Homo sapiens: one gene and its partners. The protein of the gene in region 3 interacts with the protein of the main gene of each other region in a pairwise test. Each region holds a gene or a part of one and is shown on either strand. Other genes may lie near its edges. The genes, in order: SLC5A6, EPC1, CHRM5, USP33, EPB41L1, MSMO1 and RTN1.

The links.
Region 1: the proteins of CHRM5 (region 3) and SLC5A6 interact in a two-hybrid assay, tested with the Homo sapiens proteins (one large-scale study listed by BioGRID and IntAct).
Region 2: the proteins of CHRM5 (region 3) and EPC1 interact in a two-hybrid assay, tested with the Homo sapiens proteins (one large-scale study listed by BioGRID and IntAct).
Region 4: the proteins of CHRM5 (region 3) and USP33 interact in a two-hybrid assay, tested with the Homo sapiens proteins (one large-scale study listed by BioGRID and IntAct).
Region 5: the proteins of CHRM5 (region 3) and EPB41L1 interact in a two-hybrid assay, tested with the Homo sapiens proteins (one large-scale study listed by BioGRID and IntAct).
Region 6: the proteins of CHRM5 (region 3) and MSMO1 interact in a two-hybrid assay, tested with the Homo sapiens proteins (one large-scale study listed by BioGRID and IntAct).
Region 7: the proteins of CHRM5 (region 3) and RTN1 interact in a two-hybrid assay, tested with the Homo sapiens proteins (one large-scale study listed by BioGRID and IntAct).

What each region holds. Positions count from the first base shown.
Region 1 is NC_000002.12:27,205,769-27,209,268, forward strand, and holds part of SLC5A6 (sodium-dependent multivitamin transporter), read right to left. Parts: intron 2,023-3,500; 5' UTR 1,883-2,022; coding exon 1,490-1,882; intron 1,175-1,489; coding exon 1,109-1,174; intron 767-1,108; coding exon 715-766; intron 326-714; coding exon 258-325; intron 1-257. UniProt on the Homo sapiens protein: Sodium-dependent multivitamin transporter that mediates the electrogenic transport of pantothenate, biotin, lipoate and iodide.
Region 2 is NC_000010.11:32,270,705-32,274,158, forward strand, and holds part of EPC1 (enhancer of polycomb homolog 1), read right to left. Parts: intron 3,335-3,454; exon of another isoform or gene 3,218-3,334; intron 2,578-3,217; coding exon 2,459-2,577; intron 2,411-2,458; exon of another isoform or gene 2,379-2,410; coding exon of another isoform or gene 2,310-2,378; intron 1,464-2,309; coding exon 1,322-1,463; intron 1,214-1,321; coding exon 850-1,213; intron 1-849. UniProt on the Homo sapiens protein: Component of the NuA4 histone acetyltransferase (HAT) complex, a multiprotein complex involved in transcriptional activation of select genes principally by acetylation of nucleosomal histones H4 and H2A.
Region 3 is NC_000015.10:34,065,228-34,067,958, reverse strand, and holds the end of CHRM5 (muscarinic acetylcholine receptor M5), read right to left. Parts: 3' UTR 1,988-2,731; coding exon of another isoform or gene 1,946-1,987; 3' UTR 501-1,945; downstream 1-500. UniProt on the Homo sapiens protein: The muscarinic acetylcholine receptor mediates various cellular responses, including inhibition of adenylate cyclase, breakdown of phosphoinositides and modulation of potassium channels through the action of G proteins.
Region 4 is NC_000001.11:77,695,487-77,698,169, forward strand, and holds the end of USP33 (ubiquitin carboxyl-terminal hydrolase 33), read right to left. Parts: intron 2,446-2,683; coding exon 2,377-2,445; intron 1,989-2,376; coding exon 1,831-1,988; 3' UTR 501-1,830; downstream 1-500. UniProt on the Homo sapiens protein: Deubiquitinating enzyme involved in various processes such as centrosome duplication, cellular migration and beta-2 adrenergic receptor/ADRB2 recycling.
Region 5 is NC_000020.11:36,227,740-36,230,519, reverse strand, and holds part of EPB41L1 (band 4.1-like protein 1), read right to left. Parts: intron 1,189-2,780; coding exon 1,180-1,188; 3' UTR 1-1,179. UniProt on the Homo sapiens protein: May function to confer stability and plasticity to neuronal membrane via multiple interactions, including the spectrin-actin-based cytoskeleton, integral membrane channels and membrane-associated guanylate kinases.
Region 6 is NC_000004.12:165,337,669-165,340,666, forward strand, and holds part of MSMO1 (methylsterol monooxygenase 1), read left to right. Parts: intron 1-120; coding exon 121-269; intron 270-983; coding exon 984-1,110; intron 1,111-2,552; coding exon 2,553-2,707; intron 2,708-2,998. UniProt on the Homo sapiens protein: Catalyzes the three-step monooxygenation required for the demethylation of 4,4-dimethyl and 4alpha-methylsterols, which can be subsequently metabolized to cholesterol.
Region 7 is NC_000014.9:59,598,630-59,601,776, reverse strand, and holds part of RTN1 (reticulon-1), read left to right. Parts: intron 1-3,147. UniProt on the Homo sapiens protein: Inhibits amyloid precursor protein processing, probably by blocking BACE1 activity.

The DNA of each region.
Region 1 (3,500 bases), on a different chromosome or scaffold from region 3:
AGAACATACTACCAGTGAGGGGACTCTCCTGCCATTAGGCATGTAATTGCTGTGACCCTGTTGACATCATTCCCATCCCATCCTCTACCTTCATATACCATCCCCACTGCTAAATCCTATCATAAATCTTACCACCCCAGAATTTCACCTATTCTCCTCATCTATATTCTCAGCTTATCTCTTCTTTTCCTTCTCTTCCCATGTCCCCTCCTTACTTCATCCCTTCCCCTCCCCACACCACGGCTTACTGCACTTACCAGAGCTGTATAGACGGTACAGACAATGCCCAGGGCCAGCACGGACAGCCACAGATCAAAGCCAGTCACTGTAAGCATAGAAGCCACATTCTTATCCCTGGAAAAGGGTTCCCCAGGGGAGAAGCCCTGGTAGGGCAATCACGTCATGCCACAGAGATAAAGCATTGGTCATTAACAATGAAATAAATCATTCACCACAACGGAGAAAAATGTTTGCAGAGCTCCACCAAAAGATATTGACTAACCAGTTCAGATAGGGCATGGTAACATGTTACTAGCTGTCAATTGAGGTGGACCAAGCCTTCCTCTGGTAGAGACCCACCCAAGGGCCCAAGCGGTGAATTAATTCCCCATTCAAGGTCAGGTTCTTTTCCACATACGCTCCTCCATCTGCCTCTCCCAAAGGTGCTTTCCTAACCTACCACGGCTGAAAGCCAGGGGCTGTGTGACTCCTCACCTGCATTGAGAGCCAATGACGGAGCATAGAGCACAACTCCCATGTAGATCACCTGTTGCATGTGGAAAAAATGTGATGGGGGCCGGAGAATGGTGGGAAGAGAGAGGAAGAAAGATGGGCCTCAGCGCCAATATGCCCATGGCTTCCCCTCACCTAGGCTCACTTCCCTCTTCCTTCTCCTCTCAAATTCTGGCTTGCTGCCACCACAGTATCTGTGCTGGAATTGGAAGGCATGGGCAGCAGGATGCCTCTGGGGTCCTCACAGATGCTAACCTCTAGCAGGAATTTCAATCCTGCCAATCTGAGAGCAGGGGAGACTCCAATTCCCTCAGCATGCTTGCGTTCAGGTCCCCCAACATGCCCTAGGCTCGGTTTCTATCCTCATTCTGCTTACCATCTGAAAGATGAAGGTCACAGTTCCACACACTCGCACAGTTTTATTGAATCGAAGCTCCAGGTACTGGGTATACAGAAAAAAAGATTTTTCTCCTGACTTCACCCCGACAACTCACAGACAAATTCCCTCAAGATGCTCAGGAACATGAGGGAATATCCAACCCATACCCACTCTGAGTCCTACTCGGCATAGCACCCTCCTCTCCAATCCTGCCCCTATACCTAACATCACTGAGAAAGAATTATAAACACACAATGAGTTTTCTGTCCCTCTCATTAGGTGGAGGAGGTCTAGGGTCCCAGGTCCTTCCTATGTGCCTGTCCCTCCTCTCCACCCCAACCCGTGTCCCACGCACTTCTCCCTTCTGTCCCTGCTCACCTCATAGGCACTGGTGAGATGCAGGCGGTAGAAAACGGGGATGAAGATGTGTGCAGGTATCAGCAGCCCCAGAAAGTAGCAGCAGCCCAGGAACCAATATTGGGTCCCAAATCGGTAGATCTCTGACGGCACACCCAGGATGGCCACGGCTGACTGGAAGGTGGCCAGCAGGGACAGTGCCACCGGAAGGCAGCCCATTTTGCGGTCCGCCATCAGCAGCTCACCAACAGTATGCCGGCCCCAGCCACGACAAGCATGGTAGAGCCCAATGGCAAGAGAGAGAACCAGCAGCAGGACGAACACCACATAGTCCATGATGGAGAAGGTAGACATGCCCACGCTTGTGCCCGAGGTTGGGGAAAGAGGGGCTGAGGTGCTCACCCCTACACTCATATCCTCACTGTGTCTGTGATCTGCAGCCAGTTGCTGCTCCAGGGCTCTGGGGTAGGGCAGGGGCGGATGTGTGGCTACAATCTGGCTTCCAGCCACAGTCTCACAGTCTTCCTCCACGGAGTGATACTGTCCAGGGTGAGCTGCAAAGGAATTAGCTCTTAGTGAGGCCTATCTGGCCTTGGTAGCCATTCACCCTTGGGCCTTGTACATCGCATGCCATCAGAAGTGGACCAGCCAGCATAGTGGTAGCCCTTCAAGGTCTAGAGGCCCTGGTATGGGTTTGGTAGGGGACATAAGTGAGGGAGAAGCATCAGAGTGCGACAGCCAGGAGACAATATAACTTGGCCAGGACCTTTGAGTATGCACAGCTGTGAAATTCAACAACCTTCTTAGGTCTCCACCCGAGTACCAAAAGAAAAATAAACTCTAGCCTAAGTTTCTTAGCAGAATTTCCCAGCCCCACTTGAAGGCACAGACCCAGTCACTACAATACACTAAGCCAGCAGAGCCCAGCCTGGCGCCACAGCCCAGCAGGAAACACAGCATGGAGACTAATGGCAGCAGGGCTTCCCCTACTGCCCCTGGCCTCGGCCCTCGCCTCCTGTGATCCCCAGTGTCACCCTTCTAACTGATCATCAGTGAGACTGCCTCTGTGGCAGCCACAGACTCCATTTCAGGCGTCCCCAGGCCAACCCCTTTCTTAAGGTTCTCCCCAACACCACTAGATAAGTGCTGCCACCCACCTCTCAGCCCCTCTACCTGCAACATCACAGTCAACAGCAGACGCAGGAAGAGCGGCTGGATTCAAAAGTGAGAGGGGAAAGGTGAGAGGGCACCATGCTGGAGTCAGGGTTTCAGAATGACGATTCTCCATTCTGGAGAGAAGCAACCCAGTCACGGAGCTGAGAGGCAAAGGGACCAGCCAAAGAGAGTGGTCGTATCCTGCTGGGGACAGACACCTACCTGGAGAAGCAATCCCTGTTCTGAGGCAGAGTTGCCTGGAGCTGCAGAGCTGAGGATCTGGCTCTATGAGTAGCTGAGGTGAGAGATCAGGAATTGGGGGTGGGGTGAAGCTCAGCAGTCATTTGTTCTGGCCCCTTCAGGGAACCAATGGCTGTGTTCCAAATGGCCCTATCACCCTATGGCCCCCAAACTCCAACTCAGCCCTAGAGGCTCCAGAACAGGGAAGAGGGAGCTCATATTCAACAGCATTCCTAGATGGATTAGCCTTTCAGCCTAAAGTACTCTTGGCACTCTGTGCGGGAGGGAGTTGGAAAGAAGGAACTGAAAACATGGGAAAGTTGAAAGTTGATTTTCTAACTCCTGCACAAGAAATGTTAATCCCCCAAGAATACACCACAATCCTCAGAGAAAGAGGGAAGGGATCATAATATTTAAAATCTTAAATCTTTGGACACCACTATTACAACCAACCCCCCACCACTGACGATTTCACAGATAAACACGCTAAGGCTCAGATGGTTCAAGTGACCTTTCCAAAAGCACAGAGCCGACTATTGTCAGAGCATAAATTAGAACCCAGGTCTAGGGATTCACCATCCACCCTGTCTGTTCTCCAAGCGTATCATATTGTCTTCAAAGGCAATCCTCTGGGGTA
Region 2 (3,454 bases), on a different chromosome or scaffold from region 3:
ATCCCATCTACTCAGAAGGCTGAGACAGAATCACTTGAACCTGGGAGGCAGAGATTGCAGTGAGCTGAGATTGTGCCACTGCACTCCAGCCTGGGCAACAGAGCGAGACTCGGTCTCAAAAAAAAAAAAAAAAAAAAAAAAAAAAGAATAGCTTAGCATACCAGTGATGGGGCAGGGGTTTCTATCAATTCTACCTGTTTACATGAGAAGCTGTGGAAAAAAAGTCATAAAAGAAACGCTCTCAGGAGAACTCCTTCCATCCAAAGACGGAAGAAAACTGAGAGCATTATACGCTTTTTTTTTTTTTTGAGACAGAGTTTAGCTCTTGTTGCCCTGGCCAGAGTGCAATGGTGCGATCTTGGTTGCAACCTCCACCTCCCAGGTTCAAGCGATTCTCCTGCCTCAGCCTCCTGAGTAGCTGAGATTACAGGCATGCGCCACCATGCCCGGGTGATTTTGTATTTTTAGTAGAGGTGGCCTTTCACCATGTTGGATCGGCTGTTCTCGAACTCCTGACCTTAGGTGATCTGCCTGCCTCTGCCTCCCAAAGTGCTAGGATTACAGGCGTGAGCCACTGCACCTGGTATAACTATTGTTATAGTAAGAAAGGGATGTTCCAAATCATATATGCAACATTCACTATACCAGTTAGTTCAAATTCTTAATATTGAATTAAGTGTTCAAGAACTGTTTAGTTCTTGAATAAATAAGTGATCAATTCTCAACTATACATTTTCAATGTATAAAAGGAAAAGAACAAGAAACACAAAGAAATAGGTAAAGAACGATGCTGGAGGACTGAAGTTAGATCTCTTATTCCAGGTATGTTAGGCAAAAATAACTACTCACCTTGGAACTGAATCTACAGAGGATGAAGATGGGACCTTGGAAACTTGACAGTTTGCTGCAGCGGCCAGCTTTAAGGCAGATGATGGAACAGCACTTAAAGTCCTAGGTATATGTCGTGCATTTATTGGGGCAATAGAGTTTACAGTGGCAACTGATGAAGGTACAGTTAATCGAATGTTGTTCCCAATCAGAACCTGAGTTGTTGCAGAATTGGCAGCAGTTACTTGATGACTCAGTGCACTGTGGGAACTTGAAGTCTGTGTAATATTTGAAGGCTGTAACAAAGCTGAACCTGCCGTTGATGGACTTGTATGTACAAGTGCTGTTGGTGTAGTACTACTGAGGTGTAAGCCCTTGTATACTCCTAGAGAGAAAAAGAAAGAAACATCTAAACAATGTACAACTTTGCTGTTTATATTATAGATATATGTTATAAATATAACCCAAACAATTTAAATGTCTTTATTCTTACCTGAGGCTGGAAGGACGCCATTCACCCCGATTCCAAGCACCACATCATCCTTCATCTTGAATCCCATCAGTTGTTCTGATGTCACCAAAGCAGAAGCAGCAAACTGTGCACTAGCAGAATCCAAAGTCTTAGAAACAAAACCCTAAAAAGAAAATACAAAAGAAATCTAATCAGTATCACTTAGTATCAAATCAATATCAAAACTACACATGCATACCAAAATCAGTTTGAATATAAGTAAAAATGGCAAACCACTGAAATCTTTCTATTTTGGTACCTTGAGATGCAACAGTAATTATATCTCTTTTGATAGTCATATATTTGATAAGTGAAAAGTAATCTAAGTTATAAATTTTGCTTCATATGTGACAATATATAATATGTATAAGTCAATTACCAAAATAAGCCTTCTATAATGTGGAAACAGCAAACCTCCAACACAAAATGTTGGACAAGAAATATGCTAGTAAACATTTCAGTGATTTGCAAATCCATATAATGAATAAATGAATATGTAAACTTCCTTCACCTAACTTATACACACACACATATGTATACACACACAATGAAAGGCACCTTTGGGATAAGATAACTATCCCTTTAGAAATGGAAGTAACAAAATATCACATAATTTAACCTAGAAATTGATAGGCCCCTCAACTTTTTAAAAATATATTTTTCCTGCAAGATGCAGGGACTCAAACCTCAGCCTTTATGCCCTACATGTGTTTAACTGGCAAACGTTTATCATGCTTTAGGTTTAAAAGTTATCTCTTTCAACAGTTGGAGAGGTTATTTTTGCATAATGTTAAAAGCCTTAATAATAATTAACATGCCCAAGAGAATGAACTGGGTGGGGTTATATATTCAAGAGGTACATTAATGGACTACAGGTCAGACGGGAAGACAGTATCTTCATCTCATTTAACTAAGTGCTTTAGTTTTACTTTTTAAAATAGGGAGCAGAGGCAACAGCTTCCATACTCACCTGTAGTGTTCTTTCTAAACCCTGTATATTCAGGCGAAAGCCACTTTTCTGCTGGTTAGATGCAAGGTTCTATGACAACAGTTGGTAATTAGAGATGAACTCTGGTGGGAAACAATGAGGGATAATCATAAGACAGACAAATCCCTCACCTGTGATGTGTTGGTGGAGGAATTACTATTTGCTTGCTGTTGCTGAATTTGTGCAAGCTGCTGTTTCTGCATGAGTGCCAGTTGCTGTTGATGTTGCTGGTATTGTTCGGCTGTAAATGCTGAACATAAAATAAAGAAACACTTTATAAAAATGCCCAGCTGTCATGTATGTCTTACAGTACTAAAACAAAAATTCTGCATTAAATCTGTGCAAAATTGAAGCATCTGACAAAGGATCATGATCCTGCTAAAGATCACTTCCAAATGAAAATTTCTGCGTTTCTGCTACCACATTTAACAAGAGTGGCATGAATTTAAAGAAAAAAAAAATTAAACTTCCTGAATTAAACACAGGAAAGAGAACTGCTCACTTCCCAAATTTCAACACCACTATTTTTTTTTTAAGCTGTGACACTTGTTCTACACAGTGTAGAAAGATAATATCAGCTTTTAAAATCCATAGATTTGGAATTCAGCTTTGCACTGAGCTTGAGAGAATATCTGATAATTACATTTGGTTTCTATTTAATCCATATCTTCCCAAGGCATTCAGATGATCCCTAATGGCTCTGTGTATATATACTAATAGTTCTACATATTTTCTAATTGTAGTCATTAAAAAAATTTGCTCTATATGAAAGATTACAGTTGTTGGTTGGTTTATTGCTTTTTTTTAAAGAACTCATCCTTTAAGTTTAACAGGAAGAAAAGAGGCTCTAATGTTAAGGTTAATTAATTTTCCCCACCCAATTAACCCACCTGGAAAAAATCCAGTCAATAAGAACGGAGTTGTTTATGTTGATTTACTGTACAGAATGATGTCTGAGGAAAGACACTGTGTTATGCTACTTATGTTTGTCTATGGAGAGCTCAGTTCTAAAAAAAACAAACAAAAAAATGTTCATTTATTACCCCCCCAAAAAAGTGTGTGCAGTTTTTAAAAAGGAAACCTTTTTCTCTTTTTTGCCAATTAAAAAAAAAAAAAGCACATACAAT
Region 3 (2,731 bases):
ATTAAACTTTTTTCCCTTCTTCCGCTCACTCTCGATCTGGGGTCTTTATTGGGCAAGAGTTTACATAATCTTGAACTTTACCAGTAAAATGATGTGGGGAAGATGGAAATTAGTATCACTTACAATGGGAATGGAGTGGGGCACCGACTCTTTAAATAGTTGACAAGGAAATGCTGCTGCCCCTTTTTGTGCAGTCTCCACTCGGTAAAGGACTGTGGTTTCAGGTCTGCCCCACCTCCCTTGTCCCATAGGGAAGGGAAAGCGTTTTACTCACAGATCTCTTGTCATCATTATTTAATCTTAGTTTGGTCATTGGTAACTTAGAGGGAAGGAGGAATCACAAAAGGTAGCAAGAAGGACGTGTATCCATACTGTGTATCAATCCCAACTTTCTTGAAAGGCCAGGCCATGCAAAGGTGTGTGGGAAACCCAATATAGATGGATCTAATAGGCTACTCTGAAACAATTTTCTTATTTAAATGCTCTGCATTGGACCACTGTGCGGTTAAATTTCTTTAATATCTAGAATAGTGCTTATACAATACAGAAAAGCAGCCCAGTCCCCATATCCTTTGCTGTAATTCCAGTATTTACAGTAGACAACTGGAGATTCTAATCCAGAGGTTTGGGTACAGATTTCACAATTACAAAGAGCTGGCATCAGTATTGTCTTCAAAGGACATTCACCAAAGGAGCGAAGCAAAAGCTGAGAATATTGACAAAATGCTTTGTTCAACCAAAAATTGAATGGAAAACAGATTCCCTGACAAGTCATCAAATTCACAGCCAAGGGGAAACAAATTACAATGATAGCAAAGTAACAGCATCCAGTAGGTAACTAGCCAAAGTCATACATGGTTTACTATAGACAAAGCCTGGAAGACTGGGGGCATAGAAGGCCTAAGATCTCAAGTCAGGCCATGCGCCTCCCACCCACCCATCAGGTCCCTGTAGTTTACAATTAGGTCTATTCATTCTGAGGACCCCACTAAAGCCGCTATTCTATAGAAGTCTAGTTGTCCCTAGTAGTTTGGGATATTTTTTGTCTATGTCAAGAGGCATAGGTAGTCTGCAAAACTGGCTGCTTTCCAAAACCAATGATAAAAAAAGAAGCATTGACCTCTCTCTCTCTCTTTTTTTTTTTGAGGCAGGGTCTTGCTCTGTCACTTAGACTGGAATGCAGTAGTGTGATCATAGCTCACTGCAACCTCTAACTCCTGGGCTCATGCGATCCTCCTGCTTCAACCTCTGAAGTAGCTGGGTCTACAGGCACACACTACGATGCCCTGCTAATGCCCAGGTATTTAAAATTTTTTTTGTAGAGACAGGGTCTCCCTATGTTGCCAGGCTGGTCTTGAGCCCCTAGGGTCAAGCAGTCCTCTTGCCTCAGCCTCCCAAAGTGCTGGGATTACAGGTGTCAGCCACCACACCCAGCAATACACTTCTTAATCAATTTCACAAAAGATGAACAAAAAAGGCCAAGTCCTAAGCAAGTGCGGAGTGTGCGAGGAGTGCCCTCCATGGCATCCTTTCCCGATTTGTGTTCTTTTGTTTAAATTAGCTTGTTTCACTCTCAACTGCGAATGGTGAATGCCCAACATGGGCTTAAAAGCCTATTCTCATGAAGGGGTTTTCATCTTTATCAGGAATCAAAGCCTTAAACGAAGACTCAACTGTTTATCTGGCGCTGGTAGAGCAGGTTTGCTCATGAAGTCACACCCAGTTGGCATCACGGAGGCCCGAAAGCCTCTGTGCTGGAGAACTGAGCCAATTACTGTTCCCACCGAATTCTTTGCAGGTGTCAACCTGCCCTTTACAAAGGCTCAGCAGATGCACTGCTTACAAGATGTTTCATGTCAACGTGAAGTCTTTATAAGGGACCAGTCCCGTCCTGCCTGAGATTCTACTACCCTGAAGCCTCCGTGGGACATCCTGTGAGAGGCTGATGATGCTCTTCAGTGGTAGGCTGAAGCTCTCCCATACTCAGGTACATATCTAATTCCCAGGACAACTAAACCAGCTAATTTTCCATCCTCTTAGCAAATGAGACTGAAAAGGACCCGGCCTACACTAAGACGCATGAAGTCTGGTGATTTTTAAGTCCAGCTGCAGATGTAACCAACGAGTTAAATAATGTCTGACAGGAGTGCTTCATCTTTAAAATCCTTGCTGTGTACCACACTACTGCTTCTTTGTGGACTTTTGTCCACAAAGGTCCTTTGATTCCGTTTGTTTATACGCACTTAGAGATTTCAATTAAGTGTGGTTTTTAATAATCCTCATGCTGTCATGCATGTCAACTGTTTTATTTTTATGTATTACTATGACCTACACTTTGTTTTTAAAAATGAAGCTTTCAGATCATTTTCAGCTTCATCGCACCCTCAAGTGTGCTTTTCTGGCCTTCTCATTTGTGACCGAATTTGGAGAGGAATAAAGAAGTCATTTTTAGGCCCTGATTTGAAGGACCTATAAAAAAAGACTTTCTACCCCCACCTCACCCCACAACCCCCTGCTTGGAGGCAGCACAGCTGACCTGCTTGCGTCTTGGTGTGAACTGGGGATCTGAACAAGGGAAATTGGAGGCTGCAAAAGGGCTCTGGAAGAAATTCAAAAGCAAATCTGTTTTCCACATTTTGCTCAGGTTTGCCCTGTGAAGAGATTAGAAAGCAAGATCTCTGAAAACAATATAAGAACCTTAATTCAACAGCCTGGAGAAAATCTTCAGCCA
Region 4 (2,683 bases), on a different chromosome or scaffold from region 3:
TTTGAAACCAGCCTGAGCAAAATAGCAAAACCCCATCTCTACCAAAAAAAGAGATAAAAATTAGCCAGTCTCATAACCCAGTCTCAAAATAAATAAAAATTTTAAAATAAACTGGCTGGGCACAGTGGCTCACACCTGTAATCTCAACATTTTCGGAAGCCAAGGCAGGTGGATCACCTGAGGTCAGGAGTTTGAAACTAGCCCAGCCAACATGGTGAAACCCCATCTCTACTAAAAATACAAAAATTAGCTGGGTGTGGTGGCTCATACCTGTAATCCCAGCTACTTGGGAGGCTGAGGCAGGAGAATCACTTGAACCTGGGAGGCGGAGGTTGCAGTGAGCCAAGACTGTGACACTGCATTCCAGCCTGGGAAAGGGTGAGACTCTGTCTCAAAAGAATAGATAAATAAAATAAAATAGGAACAGCAAGAAGGTATTAATATTAACAAACTTTGCACCTTTTACCTTTAACATCTATCAAATAAATTCAACATTCAAGTTTTACATTTTAAAGACATTTTTATTGAGCTAATTTTAACAACATTGCTTTAGCTGGTGACAGCTGCCCCAAACCAAAACAAAGCCATCATGAATGCTATTCAACATCCTCAATGTAATCCAGTATGTTTTTGTACTTGGAATATAGTTAAACTTTTGACATTACATAATCAAGCAAATAGCAGTGCATACTATATTATTCAAAAAGACTTTATCTATTTCATTTAAAAAATCAAGTTGCAAGTGGCCTCAGCTTTATCAACAATCGTAGTGACACATTCCACACTTCATGCTCTCAAAATAAAAAGTGCCCTAAAACTAACTCTAAGTTTTTTAGTCACTGACATTAATACTAACCAGGTTACAGGAATTGAAGTTTAACATTGTACAATATAAGCGGCAATAAGTTACTGATATCTGCTGACAAATTCCACTCAAACTAAATATATCCTTGATACATTCAAAAAGACATTTTGTAAATTTTAATAAGCTAGTTAGTGTATATGCTGCAGTGCAAAAAAAGTGACACCCTAGTTTCCTGAGCTTTAGGAAATTAACAATTTTCTGACTACTACTTTCAACTTAAAATAGGCTCTTTATTATATGAAGCCATGACAAAACTATACAATTAAATTGGGCTTTTGGAGAACTGAAAGACTGGTCAGAGTCAGGGTGATTTAGGACAATGAAAAAGTTTTCAAAGCAAAAGTATTTACAACACTACAAAGGATACTATGGATCTGCATGTAGTGTAAAGATTAAAGATAACCTACTGATTTCACAATTGTCCCTCCTCTTTCAAAAATATTACACTGGGCCAGGCGCTGTGGCTCACACCTGTAATCCCAGCACTTTGGGAGGCCGAGGTGGGTGGATCACCTGAGGTCAGGAGTTTGAGACTAGCCTGGCCAACATGGTGAAACCCCATCTCTACTAAAATACAAAAATTAGCCGGGCATGGTGGCAGGTGCCTGTAATCCCAGCTACTCGAGAGGCTGAGGCAGGAGAATCGCTTGAACCCAGGAGGTGGAGGCTGCAGTGAGCTGAGGTAACACCACAGCACTCCAGCCTGGGTGACAAAGCAAGACTCTGTCTCAAAAAAAAATTACACTGAAAGACTTTATGGTAAGTATTTAAAACTAAATATACCAACCTGTGGTATATTACACATTTTAATATATTCTTCCATAATGCCCACTAAGAAGAAATAAATGGGATAAATGATGAAAAAAAATAAAGCAAATAAACACGCTTTTAGGAATGTTTTCGCATGTGTACATGTCAGGGCACATGAAAATGATTCCTCATTAGAACTCTCTACATCCTAAAAATTACAAAGACCGAGTTTCTACTTCAATTTTTTCTTCTGCTTGAAGTATATCTGGATCAACATGAACAACCGGAGGTCGCAGGATAACTTCAGGCCCTCCACCATAAATAGACTGCAGAAAATTCCATGTTTCTTCAGAAATCTGGCCAGAATCTGCTCCTTAAAATTACGTAGAAGAAATAATGTTTACAAACCTATATATTCATATTGCAAAAGCGTTCATAATGTACCCCCCAGCATGAATCTTCTCGGGATAATTGAGAACTTCTGGAACATGAATCTGCAGACTACCAGCCCATATTGTTATAAGCTGAAACATATGGCTTGTCTTAAAAAGTCAGAGATGCTTTTGCTTTGCTCTTAACAACAGCCTTAAGACCTTTCCTCAGATAAAAAAAAAGTGGCTGCTTTTCATTACTTGCCCTAGTTAATGTATGGATTACATTCTTCAGTTGAATAAAAAAGTACTATAGATGACTAATGATAACATATTTCTAACAGTGACAAATCACTCACAAGTAAAAGCTTAAATACGAGTCAAACTTACCTTGCCTAAGCATCACATTACCACATTTAGTGACTGCAATCTTAGTATTGTCAATAGGACCTGGAGGATCTAAAGGAAAAAATATCAAAATGTATTTTTCAAAGAAATGTAACAAAAAATTGCATAATTTTGTGCTTGACAAAATTGTGACCTATAACTACATTATCAGACTGGTTATTTCTCAGGCAAATTATTATAGTTAATTCTTTTTTTTTTTTTTTGAGATGGAGTCTCGCTCTGTTGCCCAGGCTGGAGTGCAGTGGCACCATCACAGCTCACTGCAACCTCCGCCTTGGGTTCAAGTGAT
Region 5 (2,780 bases), on a different chromosome or scaffold from region 3:
TCCCCACCAATCAACCAATTACAAACACCACACACAGTATTACTACACTGAACCCGTCAGCCCCTACTGTGAGCCAACCCACACCCAGAGTCCAGGTCTCCTTAGCTGGGCCAGTTCAGTGAGATCTAGGAACCTCAGGATACATCAATCACAGTCAGATAATTATAATTTTAGAATGTCAGCTTCATACTTACCAGCACTGTTTATTTTAATATTTTTTCCTGTTATATGTAATATACATAACTTCAAAGCACATCCGTACAAACCTCCTACAAGCTGCACCTTCATAATGAGAAACCATAAGCATACAATGTCTACTTCCCTTCCTGTGGCTTCGTTTTCTGTTCTTGCTTTCTTTTCTTTTTCTCATTTCAAAGGAGAGTCATCTGCAGTGGCCCTCAGAAGGACCAGGACACAGAGGGTGAAGGGTGTGGGGTGGGGGAAGGGGGAAGGGGGAGGAGGGAGCCGAGACAGAAAATGACAGCAAGACATTGAGAGTTGAGGGTGAGGGGAGGCGGGAGAGAGGAAGGTAGGTTTTGCAGCCCAGTGTCAAGATCCAGAAAGTAAGAATCCAGTGTTCCTCCTCTTTCTTTCCAAGTGGGGAATTTTCTTTTTTTCTCGGAAAATGGTTGACTGTGCGTGTCTTGCTGCTGTGACTTCTCTTGCTTTGCTGTGCAAGTGTTTTCCTTTGCATTCAAGTGGGCCTTAGAGATGCTGGAGAAGAACAAATGGAATTGCTCGTCTGCTAACTGTAACGTGCAGAACCAGGGCGGGAGGGACTTCTACAATCATCGTGGTCTGGCTTGCGTTTCTTATTTGGCGGGGGAAAGGGGTGAGCAAGGGATTATAGTTATTATATAATTTTTTTTCTTGAAAAAAATCCCACCAGTTCTTCAATTTGTCTGCAAAGGAAATGTAGGTGTTCAGATGTCGGTTGTTGCTGTCAGCCAACTGCTCTGCCAGCCCCAGCAGCAGTGCAAGGATGCGGTGTTTCCTGTATATATATCTATATCTCTATATATCTATATATATATGCTTTTCCCTTCCCAGTCTCTCATCAGTGACAGTACGTCGCAGCTGGGACGTCAGTGTTGCGTCGGAGAATCCAGAATGAAGGCCCCTTCTTAATGGTTCTCTGGCTTGGGTTGGACCAGAAATGCCAGGATCTCTTCACAGAGGTCAGGATTCCTGGAAGCCAGAGGCATGGGGTAGAATGGGGGGTGGGGAGTGGGGGGAAAGGAAGGAAGAGGACAAGAAAAATTAGTAACTTCTGTCACTTGTTTTAAAATACATGGCAAGAGGTTGTTTTTGCTACCCTTTACCATATGCCCTTTATTGTGACTCAGCAAGGTAGAGTGACTTGCACCTGTAATCCCAGCTACTTGGGAGGCTGAGGTGGAAGGATCTCTTGAGGTGAGAAACTCAAGGCTGTAATGTGTAATCATCATGCCTGTGAGTAGCTATTGCACTCCAAGGCCACGCAGCTTGTGTGTGGCAGCAGAGAACCGAACCCACATCTGTTGGATTCCAGAGCCCATGTGTGTTTGCTCGCTTGTTTCCAGGGAGGTGGTAATCTTTTACTTTGGCCTGACAATGTGTTAAAATGTCCTTTAACACCGAGAAGCTAAGATCATCATCATTTTACTTTTTCTTCCTATCTTGTCAGCTCTAAGAAATGTTTAGTCACGATTGCAGATGTTCTTTTTTCATTTGGTTTTCCTTTCTGTTGTCCGTGGGCTTGCTGTGTCCTGGAGATTAAACCACAGACAGCAGTGTTTAAATAAAGAAATGAAGTCTGGATTCCAGGTTTGGCTCCAAAACTCAGTGTTTAAAGGAGCAGGCTCTGAAATCAGACTCCCTGAGTTCAAATCCCACTCTATGGGCCTGCTAGCTCTGTAATCTTGGGTGAGTTTCTTAACTTCCTTTACTTTAAACAGTTTTTAACAGACGAGTCTTACTATGTTGCTCAGGCTGGAGTGCAATAGCTATTCACAGGCACAATCAATGCACATTACAGCCTTGAATTCCTGGCTGCAAGTGATCCTTCTGCCTCAGCCTCCCAAGTAGCTGGGATTACAGGTGCACGCCACAGTGCCTGGCAAGTTTCTTAACTTCTTTAAGCCTCAATTGCTTCCTCCGTAAAATAGGTTCTGCCTCCCATTATAGGGAGGAACTGAAGCAAGGGCCCAGCATATAGTAAGTGCTGAATAAATACTGGCTGTTCTTATTATGATGATTGTTGCTGTTGTTAATTTAACCACACACTACTCTGATCTCCTTGAGGGTAAGGGCTATCTTTTAACTCTTGTCTTTCCAGTGTTCAACACTGTGCCTGGCACATAGCAACTACTCAAAACCATTTAATGGATGAAACATCATTTCTGCTACTTGCATGCAGTCGAGTGCTAACGGAATCACAGAAAATGGATCTTTCTTGGCTCATTTGACACATAGGAAAACCGAGGCCCAGAGGCTTCAGGCTTAGTAAGTTGGCAAAACCAAGACTAAAACCCAAGGTTCCTGTTTTGGAACAGGTCAATTTTTTCCCATTAAATTTTGGAAGGTTAGGAAGCTAGGCAAGTGCTGCCCTCTTGCTGGTGGTGTTTGGGAGACAGGTCCTCTCTGAAGGAGGTGGGCCAGTGGGAGAAGATGGAGCAGAAACCAGACGTCTGACCTGCAAGGTTGCAGGGAGAGAAGGGAAAAGGTTCTGTGTGACATGAGTGACTTTCCACGCTCATAGCAAGAACTTCAAGAAGGAAGAACTTTAAGAAGGAAGACAG
Region 6 (2,998 bases), on a different chromosome or scaffold from region 3:
TTATATAAAGTTAACATAACTGACGTAGAATTAAGGTCCAACATAAACAGAGAACAAATTAGGTCAAGTTAAACTCTGATAGCAGAGACTAATATTAGATATTGTGATTTTTCTTCGTAGGATAAGCCAGAGACATGGGAAAACCAATGGAAGTGTTTCAAAGTTCTTCTCTTTAATCACTTCTGTATCCAGCTGCCTTTGATTTGTGGAACCTATTATTTTACAGAGTATTTCAATATTCCTTATGATTGGGAAAGAATGCCAAGATGGTACGTAGATAAAAATTTGGCTTTTACACCCAATTGTGGCTTATTCAGTTAAGTTATACTTAATGTTTACCCGTTTTCTTAATTTTAGTTAATGTTTGTTCTAAACTTTGGAAGTAAATAAATAGTAGAAAAGTAAACCACAGTAAAATCTTAAAATGTTTCCATTTTTACATCTTTTAAATATTTTATTGGAAGGTGAGCTTCTAGTATCAGAAGTTTCCATAACGTCTTTTGTATGTTTATATACATGTATAAGTGCTTATGTTGACAAAAATATATTACATTTTAATTTTAAAATGAATGAAATATATGAGAATCATTTATGAGGTTTATAGAAATTGTGTTTACATGAACAAAAATATGTATGTGTATATATATATATATATATATATACACACATATATATATACACACACATATATATACTCATGCGTCACTTAACGGATATCTCTTGAGAAAAGTGTCATGAGGCAAGTTGTGTGAACATTGTAATGAAATGAAATTGGTCTAATGGGCAGTCTCTTTAACCTTATATCAAGTTATGTAGCTGTATCTGGTGGTTTTGAGAATTTATTTATGAATATATCCAATTAGGTCAACCTGGTAAGTGGGTGGGTGGTTTTATGTAATGTCTCAAGCAGTGATCCCAACTAAAAGTCTGGATAGTTTAAGTAAAAATTATTTCTTACACATTACAACATTTTTATCTTAAAGGTATTTTCTTTTGGCAAGATGCTTTGGTTGTGCAGTCATTGAAGATACTTGGCACTATTTTCTGCATAGACTCTTACACCACAAAAGAATATACAAGTATATTCATAAAGTTCATCATGAGTTTCAGGTATGTGAGAGTTATATTTAATTCTTTCTGTTAGAGGCAAAATGTCTATTTTAATTGCCTGAGCATTTTTCTAAAATTGTTGGTGACGTTTTTATTTTCTTTTCCTTTGGCATGATTATTAAGAACAATACACACACATACAAACAAGCCATTTCTACACATTGTTTTCATTATTTAAATTTCATGGTAAATTGAGATCTGAAAGAAAAATATTATATGAAAGTTCGGACTTCCATCCTTGTGGACAGTGCTACACTGGCACAGCTAGATCCTCACATTGCTAACTCCCACAAAAACAGTAACTTCTATGAGCACTGCTTTTTTTTTTTTTTTTTTTTTTTTTGAGATAGAGTTTTGCTCTTGTTGCCCAGGCTGGACTGCAATGGCATGATCTCAGCTCACTGCAACCTTCACCTCCTGGGTTCAAGCAATTCTCCTGCCTCAGCCTTTCAGGTAGCTGGGATTACAGGCATGCGTCACCACGCGTGGCTAATTTTGTATTTTTAGTAGAGACAGGATTTCACTATGTTGGTCAGGCTGGTCTCGAACTCCTGACCTCAGGTGATCCACCCGCCTTGGACTCGCAAAGTGCTGGGATTACAGGCGTGAGCCACCATGCCCGGCCAATTAGAATTGCTTTGATGTAGCTTTGTCAACTGGTTATGTGAGTATGTTTTGCATTGACCGTGATTACATGGTGTGCCAAATCAAGCCTCTCTTTATTAGAAGAACAAATATAAATACTTAAGTCAAAATTAGAGTTCAAGTCAATTATTTAATGCCTTTATCTTAAACCATCAAAGACAGCAAGATTTTATATCCCTAGACTTTTGATGTGGAGTAAGGTATTTTTATTGAGAATTGCTAGTATTATTTATAAGTGTATGACTAGATAAATCATCACTACATATAGAATCAATATAACTTTGTAAAACTTTATGCATAAATAGGATATATATATTAGTGAAGTCTCCAGTGAAGCAGAATCATTGGGGTATATATATGCAGAGAGAGATTTATTTTAAGGAATCAGCTCATGCAAGTGTGCGGCTGTCAAGTCTGAAATCTGTAAAGCAGGCTACAGACTAGAAATCCAGGTAAGAATTGTTGCAGCCTTGGGTCCAAATTCCATGGAGCAGCAAGTTGGAAACTCAGGCAGGGTTTCAGTGTTGCAGTCTCGAGAATCCTTCTTCAGGAAACCTCAGCCTTTTATCCTGAAGGCCTTCAAATGATTGGATGAAGCCCACCCTCATTATGAAGGGTAATCACCTTTACTCAGTCTACTGATTTAAATGTTAACAACATCTAAAAAATACCTTCACAACAACATCTAGACTGGTATTTAATCAAACAGTTGGATATCATAGCCTAGCCAAGTTGACACATAAAATTGACCATCACAATAGCTAAGAAATTAAGAATTTCTTATCTGTTTGTCTTAGGCTCCATTTGGAATGGAAGCTGAATATGCACATCCTTTGGAGACTCTAATTCTTGGAACTGGATTTTTCATTGGAATCGTGCTTTTGTGTGATCATGTAATTCTTCTTTGGGCATGGGTGACCATTCGTTTATTAGAAACTATTGATGTCCATAGGTGAGTATTAATTTCTGTTCAGGTATAAAGCATAATGAAATATATTTATTTTCATGGCCATAAGATTATCATATTTCTAAGGAGACTAATAGGAGAAGTTAATCTTCTTAATGTTATATTAAGAAAACATAACTGTTGGATAAAAGTTTAAATAATAGATGTTTTTACATTCTAGCCTATGCTGTTATAATTTTTATAGTGATAATGTGTTATTAGGGCAAGTATATATTCAGGACCAGCAATTTCCTTATCCTTCTGTAATAAACCTAAACTTAACTCATATTTGAAAAA
Region 7 (3,147 bases), on a different chromosome or scaffold from region 3:
GATTGGTAACCTGGAATGTATATTTTAATGAACTCTTCAGGTGACTTTTTGGCAACTAGAACTGTGTTCATAAACTATAGCAAAGAATACCAGAATAGGAGTTTGGAAACTGGAAGATAGAAGTTCTAGACCTAAGTTGTCCAATACTTAGTTTGAGTATCACAAATCATACCTATTACTTTTTCATTTGGTTTGTTGGTTGAGTCCAAAAAGAGGAGTACCTGTTATGTTCTGGACACTTCATATGATAGGTACAGAGGGTATAAAGATAAATGAAATGATCTCAGCCCTAAAAGAGCTCTTAGCCCAGTGGTGCAGACAAAATTATACAGAAATAACTATAATAAAATATAATAAGTACAGTAGAGCTATATGAAATACTAAAGTCAGAGAGATGAGGAAACAATTGTTCCTTCCTGGACAGGATAGTGGAAAGCCATTAAGATAAGGTGGCATTCAACCTGGGCCTTGAAGGATGGGTAAACAGTCATCACGTGGATGATAAGGGGAAAGACGTTGCAAGAGGAAGAGGTAATAAAGCAAAGACAGAGAAGCATGAAAATGTAAGTCATGTTTAATAGGCAACAGTCAACCAGTATGTCTAGAGCTTAACTGAGTCGAAAGATCAACTGGAAAGAATGTAGGAAGAGAGGCTGAGGCCAGGTGGTGAATGCTCTGTGGAGTTTTGATTCCAACCCAGCAGGAAATGGCCACCCCTTGATGTTTTTAAGCAGGGGATTGATATCATCAGATTTATGTTTTTTAAAGATCACTATGGCAGTCTAGTGAGAAAAGAATTGGAGAGGGGAGAGACTAGAGATGTGGCCATCAGCTAGGAGGTTATCATAATTCAAATAAAAGTGACAAGGGCATGGCCTGGTTAAAATGGAGGGAAAAGAGAGATGGCAGAGAATATAAAGTATATACAATGTACTTGTTAAATTACAATTGGAAATCAATGCTGTGAAAAGGAATGGAAAGGAAATGTTACCTATGACTAATATGGCTTCTGTAATTGAGCTTCAGGCAGAGTTGGCTCTGAATTTCCTGGTAGCTAGGACAAAAAGAGAAACTAGGCAAGTCACATGGTTCTCACTATCTATCAGAGAGGAGGAAACAACAATTCTTCCAAATAACCTGTTTTGCCTGGCACTACATTTTGAAGGAAATTTCTTGGTGGGATCTTAACTCTAAGTCCTCTTCAACCTCTGAAATTGTAATTCCACCTTAGAATAAATAATTCCAGCAAAAGAACTTACACCACTTTAGTGGTACAGTTAAGAACATGATTGTTAGAATCAGACAGACTGAGTCCATTTCTGGCATTTTTAGCTGTATGAGCTCATCATAAATGTTATTTGACTCTATGAGCCTATTTCCTTATCTGTAAATTGGAAATGTTAATACCACACAGGGTTCTTGGTGATTAAATGAGGTAATGTCTGTAAAGTATTCTTACTTGGATGTAGGAAACCCTCAATATTATATATCATTGTCATCATCATCATCATCATCCGATTACTGCTTAGAGATCGGTTCATGGGGCTTGGAGGTAGAGGACAGTCCCAGATTGGGCCAGTAGACACCAGGGCCAGTCTCTCCTCCATACTGAGTGACCCTGTCTAGGTCGTTTCACCTTTGTTTGTCTCAGTTTTCCAGCTTAAAATAGGGGTTAATAATGCATAATAACACTTCTTAGAGTTTTGAAAATGAGGAAAAAAGCCTCAAATTTCAAAAGGCAAAATAAACACTGTAGAGGAAATTAAAGCTTCGAGTAAGTGAGACCATAATAAGAAATCTGCTTTAAGTGAATACAATTCCCTATGTCTAGGTGAGTTATGTTTTAGAATGACAAAGTAGCTTGTAATTTTACCTAGAAGCTCTCTTGGTGACCTTTGATAAATCTCATGGAATAAAGGACATCCTGAAAACTCAAATTGGAAAGGAGCTGTCACGATCTTCAAATGAGAAGAAAGAAAGATTCTAGATGTTATATTTGATAAACTGAAGGCCTAATTTCAAGCAAAAATCCAGAATGAATTAGTAAAACTGTAGATACTCAGAATAGATCAGTGTATCTTCACTAAACCCTGAGATGAGATGGACTTCCCTAGCCAGTGAGTATTCTGATTTTAGTGGGGGTAGTCAGCAAGTCTTCTTGGTGTCCTTGTGGAAAAAAATGGAGATGTATGATCCAGATGATAGCACAGGTGGTAGAATTCTAGAAGATTGAAATAATAGACCCTAAAGATGTTCATTAATCCATCCAATATGTGTCTGGGCCAAGGTATGTGACACAGGGCTCTGCCTTTGATCCCATTACTTTCAACCCCATTACTTCTCATGACTATGTGAAGACAAATCAAATATCTTTGTCAAAGTTCCAGATGATGTACAGTTTGAAGCAAAAGCAAATTCAGAAGATGGCAAGCTCAAGATTCAAAATGAATCAAGGGATCTTGAGTAAGCGAGAATGCCGAATTGAAATCAATAAAATGAAATTAATAAGGAAAGTGAAGTCCTACATTTAGGTTTCTAAAAAGTCAACTTTACAGATATAGAATGCGGCGAGGGATAGATGAGAGAGGGTAACAATAAGGGTGTATGTAAAAAATACCTCGGGGGTTTTAATTGCTTGATTGGTCACAGCCAAATGTGAGTCAATGATGTGCTGAAGCATCTTTAAAAAATCAATGCAAGTTGAGTTGTTATTAGTAGGAGTACAAAGTCTAAATCAACATAGGCAACAGTCATATTATATTCCATATTGGCCATCCCATATCTGTGTTCAATTTCAGGGTTGGACATTTTAACAGATGCATTAATACATTGGAGTAATGCCACAAAGATGACCAGGGTACTGTGGTATTAGAAATCTGATAGTAATGGGCAGTGAAGAGCAAACTTTGCTGGGGATGATTACCCTGGAAAATAGATGACTTTAAAAGGACACCATAGCCATTCTCAAATACTTGGAGGTCTAACATTGCTAAAGGAGTAGGATTTCCCTTTTTCTCTCAAGAGCAGTGAATGGAAATTTTAGAAGTTCTGAGATTTGAATGAAATATGAGGGAAAAGAGTAATGATTAGAGTTGCTCAATAATAGAACCATCTGCCCCATGAAGGAGTGAGTACCCTGACATTCAT